2 separate regions of the Homo sapiens genome follow, and region 2 is linked to region 1. The links come from fine-mapping of genetic effects on gene expression. A gene starts in region 1. The other region holds a variant in brackets. All regions are shown on one strand. Distances are between the middles of the regions.

Region 1 (2,805 bases):
CAGTTATCAAATAATTAGCAAGCCAAACCAGACAAAATATAATGTGTCCTAGCAGTTTCTTGCCTTTTTAAAAAAGCATCTGTTTTGTGGGTGTCTGAAAGGGCTCAGATTTGTCCCACATCTCCAGTTTTTTGTTTGTTTGGATCCAGGATAAAACAAGAACAAAGTTTTTTTGTGCTTAGGAATATAAGATGGTGGCAGAAAAGATCCTCAGGATGCCACCCACATCTCAAAGTCCAACAACCATCTCATCTCCCATACTGTGATCCTTTGATAATAAAGTCAATTACATACAACATTTCACCATAGGTCTTTCATAGAACTTAGAACACCTAGCATATAATTTAGTCCTGAGCTAGGTGAAGAAGCAAGAAATGTTTTACTCTAAAGCAATTTTTATGACGCTATCACTTTTCAAGGAACCCCCAACAGTAGTAATAACACCAGTATTGTATTCTTGCTTTTTCGCGTTGTTCAGATTGAAATAATCCCATTCACTTTAATGTTCAGGCTCCATAGGTGAATTGAATTTAATTTCTATAAATTGGTAATGTTGCCGTTGTCCTTATATTTTCAGGCACAATCCAGGCCTTATATTTTCAGGCACCCGTTTGACAGTTAGCCTCTAGGGATTAAACAATACTCAAACAAGTTTTTCATATACTACTTTAAACAATTCTTCCCCTTCCCTTAATCCGTGTGTGTGTGTGTGTGTGTGTGTGTGTGTGTGTGTGTGTGTGTATGTTCCCTTAGTTCTTCAATTGCTGAAGTTGTAGCTGCCGAAATTATCTTCCATAGGTGAGGTCTTTTACCACCAGACGTGGGTCACACATTGTAGATGGCCACATCACCTGGCGCAGGTGGTCCAGCTTTGGTCGCCATTCATAGAGGGAAGGGTTCCCAAAAGGCACCCAAGAAGAGATGAAGTTTGTTAAACCAAAGCTTATAGGTCCAGAAGGCAGTCGGACAACTGGTCATTTCCAGGGATGAACAGAGAGGGCGCCCTTCCCCAGAGGCACAAATGGCCAGGACGCAGGGGTGGGACAAGCCAGTAGGAAGCCCGCGGGGCTCTCACAGCGCAACCTGGTTGGACTTAAGGACCCTGGACAACAAACGTCAGGAGAGCTAGGAGGCTGGCTCTTCTGCGGGAGGTTATAGAGCGGATCACCTGGGCGCAATCGCCGCGTAGTTGAAGTTTCCCTAAAGTCTCAGTGGGGCTTTTCCTCCCGTGAGAAGCCCCATTCCTGAGTATCTAGTCCCGGAGGCTCCGCACTGCTTCCCCACGCCCCCTCTTTCTTCGCCCCAGCTCTGGGCGATCTCACTGCCGGGCACAGGGCCGCCTTTGCCTGCCTGCCCTGCAGCAGCAGGCCCGGGCGGCTGCGAGAGGGCGCAGGGGGCGGAGGCGCGGCAGGGGCGGGCTCTGCCGCCCGCCCCACCACCCGCTCCCCGCCCGGCTGCGGGGCCAGTGGCAGGAGCGCCGCGCACCGCCAGCCGCAGGGGGCGTGGGATGGGGGCGGCCGGGGAGGGGGGCGCCCACACTGACTAGAGCCAACCGCGCACTTCAAAAGGGTGTCGGTGCCGCGCTCCCCTCCCGCGGCCCGGGAACTTCAAAGCGGGCCGTGCTGCCCCGGCTGCCTCGCTCTGCTCTGGGGCCTCGCAGCCCCGGCGCGGCCGCCTGGTGGCGATGACCCGGGCGCTCTGCTCAGCGCTCCGCCAGGCTCTCCTGCTGCTCGCAGCGGCCGCCGAGCTCTCGCCAGGTACGGTGCTGGTTTCTCTCCCGACGCCCGCGAGGGTGGGAGCTGGGAGGAGGTCTGCGGGTGAGCACGGGGGTGGGGGACAGGGGGTGCTCCGAGCAAACTGACCTTCGGGGCGGACAGGGAAGCGCCAGTCGGATTGAGGGGGCGCGGGATAGGGTGCAGCGTGGGCACCTGACGTCTGGCAGCCGTAGGGGTAGACAGGTGTGTTGGGGACGAAGCCGCCCGGAAGAGGGAAAAGGCAGCAGGGACGTGGGGGAATAAGTAGTAGGGGTGAGGTGGGTGACTAATTTGTGGGCAGTTTGCAGCGGAGAAAATAGGAGAGCGTTTGTGGGTGCGCGCATGGCTGGGAGCTGGGTTCACCCTGCAGGGACCTGGAGGGCTGCAGGTATGCGTCGGACGCGCTCTGTGCTAAGCCCCTGAGAGCTGCTCAAGGATGGTGGCATGGTGGTGGTGGGAGGTGGTGATTTAGTCTGAGTTTTAGGAGGCGGGGAATACCCCAAAAGCCGCAGATGCCAAGCTATGGAGGCGAGAGTGGGAGCTTAAATCTGTGTGGTTTGCAACGCACATTGCTTTCGAGGTACGATCTTTACTCAGAGTTCCTGGGGAAAAAAATTCTGGCAAGCGCCCCAGAGTTTATAACAGGTCTGTGCCTTGATAGGCTAAATAGAGCCCTCTACCCAATCTAGAAGCCAGACGTTTCTTTATAATGTTTACTAGAAAGTGGGGCAAATGCATCTTTGGTAAAATCATAATATGCTGTGACTAAAAGCCCTTTACCTCGAAAACTATTTTCATTACATTGTCCTGGATTATGCAGAGGAGGAGCAGATTCTTTGCTAACTCATTCTTTAAAAATTTCTATCAGACATTGAAGACATTTGCACATAAAAATCTGGTGTTTTCCCATAGAGCTGTGTTTTGTCCGAAGCTGATTTTGATGCATTTTGTTTTCCCAGATGACAATCTGTTTGACATTAATAGCTATATTCATGGTGGGTCGTTTTCCTCTTAGTGACATGTGCAAGAGAATGATTTGAATGATATGATT
Region 2 (2,805 bases), 29 kb before region 1:
CAGGCAAGTTATGTGTAAAATTGTGAAGTAGGGTAAGTGGTTGGTGCTCTTGCACCTCCACCTTTCATGTCTTGTCTGTCTAGAGCACAAAATTTTGGCTTTTGAAGGGGATTCCAAATTTTCTGTAAAGATATTCAAAGCCAGGTTTCTTCCTGATTGCTTTCTTGGCTTCCTAATGTATTTTTCTTTACCTTTATTAGGCATAGGTAGAGCAGGGGTTAGCAAACCATGACCTGTGGACAAAATCTAGCCTGCAGCCTATTTTTGTAAATAAAGTTTATTGGAACACAGGCATATCCATTCATTTTCATACTGTCCATGGATACATTCTTGCTATAATGGCAGAGCTGAGTGGTTGCAAGAAAGACCCTGTGGCCTACAAAACCAAAATATTTACTATCTGACCCCTTATAATAAAAGCTTGCTGAGCCCTGGTCTTGAGTCCTTATCTAGGAGATCTTGGGAAGAGTCTAGGAGTTTGCTACTCCAGGTGTGGTCTGTGGACCAGCAGCATCAGACTGAAGGAGTTTACTATGAATACAGAAATCTTAGGTCCATCCCCAAACATAATAAATTAGAATCTGTATTTTAATAAGATCCTCGGGTGATTCATATGCATGTCGATGTTGGAGAAACACTGATCTAAGTATCTTTGGAGACTGAGGAGAACCCCCAATAGAACTCACTCTTGAGAATACATTGCTTCTAGGATATGCAAATAGTTTGGATGGTGGCCTAACATTAATGGTTTTCAGGAGTATCACTACGTTAACAGGCTATATGTCTTAACTGCAAGAAATAAAGCCTTGGTAATGGAATCTTAGGACTATGGAAACTGACAAAGTGAATATTTTGGAGGATGGAAGGACTCTAAGTATGCCTCAAATCACACCATTAGGCAGCCATGCACTTTGCCAAGAAGGCCAACTCTGAGCATGTTTTTTTTTTCTTTTTTGAGCCTAGGAGTGGCTGTGGAGCATTAGTGATGCTAGTCAGAAGGTGCGGCTGTTTGATTACACACCACAGTGCTCCATTTTATTGCAACGACAAAAATACCCCCACTCTCTGTCCACTTCACTGTTTCTGAGCTTTGAGTAAGAGAGGCTTGGTTGAATTTCTAAAAAGCTGTCATTTGCTATTCATAATTTATTTTGGTGGCTCTAACTTTTTAAAAAAAGTCATGCAGAAGAAGGCTATTTTTTTATTATTCTTGAGACATTACACTGGGGACAATTCCTGGAACCCTGTAAGAATCCTGGAACAGTGTGATAGTGTTTGCCATCAAACAAAGCTTCCATGTGATTACTAGCAAGGGCTGTGAAATATTCTGTAAGTGAGTTACGTGGTAAGGCAGATAGTGTCTCCAGCAGCACATGAT[A/G]TCCCTCTTTAGAGGAGGAGATTTGTTTACCCTTCCAAAATAATACAAAATAAAACCTAAAATCAAGGACACAGAGTACTCTTTTGTAAATGGGCAGACCCAGTATGTCCACCTAGGAAATTTAATAAATCTCCTCATTAGCTCCATCACTATAACATTTTGTTGCAGTGAGGAAGACACAGAAGTTGGTTTTGTTTGTCTGTTTTTGTTGCTGTTGTTTTGTTCAAGTCTTTTATTTCACTAACCTTGGGCTCAGATTCCTTTATTAAAGAGGAAAACATGCTCTAAATGTATTACCATATTAATTTACGTAAAAGTACACTTTGTATCATTTGGAAGCTGAGGATAATAGTTCTATGCACTCTCAATTCATAACTGTAACAGGAGATGGCCATGGATTAAAAACCATGGTTTTCATGTCACCTTTTTCTGCCCTTACTAAAACCATTTCTATAGCTGATAAATAATACCTTTGATTGGTTTTGAAAATTTTCTTTATTTCACTTTACCATATCTCTGTTGCAGTTTCAAATGAATCAATTAAAATAAAAATTGTGTCTAAAAGACAAAAAGAGAAACAAAAGAGACTTCAATGTTCCAAAGTGGATATTCAGGCCCTCGAAATACGAAGCTGGTTATGTAGATTCATTGAAGTAGTCTCTCAGCTGGGAAGTGCTGGATATGCTGACCCAAGGAGATTTGCAATTCTAAATTTTAGCCGTATTCCATACTACCCTTGAATGACTTGACGCCCCATAGCTCAGGAGCACAGGGTGAATGGGGCAATTATACAGATTTAAAATTCTGGATTGTTGCATGTTGCTCTTGTCAAAATCCTTCACTGTTATAAATGCAGTCTACATATCTAGGGAATGGGGCTATCTATAAATGTTCTCCATATGGAGGGAAGTTTACCTCCTCCTTCTGTAGCGAGCTGTTCTGATCCAAATAAACTCTGTGAATGGGTGAAACTCATGCTCCTTCCTTGTCTATTAGCTCACTTAAAAGTATCTATGATTCTATTTCCACAAATAGCTTCAGAGTATCTTCTATGGGCCAAGTCCTGTGTCAGCACAGGTTGTTTCAGTAACTCCTTACCAATACCTTGTAGGATAGGCATTATTCCACTCAAATTGTGGATGAAGAAACTAGACTCACAGAGAGAAGCTGTTCCCGCCACTCCACCATGCTGCATTGTTTTATGAGTGGGTTTAAAAGGCTTTATTTATTTATTTACTTATTTTTTCATCAAGTAATGATTAAGGCAATGAATATGTAATATGCCAACACTGCATTCCTTGTTGGAGATACAAAGGTAAATGCATCACTGTTTTTGGCCTCATGGACTCTATGCCAAACGGGAAGATATGGATTTCATTTTTTATTCCAAACTCAAGTTGTTTTTTCAATCTCTTTTGTTGCTTTTA

Direction of the effects. Positions count from the first base shown, and alleles are read on the strand shown. Sizes are in standard deviations (SD) of each study's normalised expression.
For the expression in sun-exposed skin of the gene that starts at base 1,465 in region 1, allele G in region 2 goes with a higher level than allele A (small effect, 0.33 SD a copy in GTEx).

The links. PIP is the estimated chance that this variant, and not a neighbour inherited with it, causes the effect.
Region 2: its variant is the best candidate, but not a certain one, in a credible set for the expression of ACVR1C in sun-exposed skin (GTEx, PIP 0.83).

What each region holds. Positions count from the first base shown.
Region 1 is chr2:157,627,524-157,630,328 of GRCh38, reverse strand. ACVR1C (activin A receptor type 1C) reads left to right here and starts at 1,465. Exons shown (of 9, transcript NM_145259.3): 1 at 1,465-1,757. The coding sequence starts at 1,685. RefSeq lists a silencer at 1,521-1,750.
Region 2 is chr2:157,656,572-157,659,376 of GRCh38, reverse strand. No RefSeq gene overlaps it. Among named protein-coding and RNA genes, the nearest start is that of ACVR1C, 29 kb to the right of the region's middle. The variant A/G (reference allele first, on the strand shown) is at 1,379.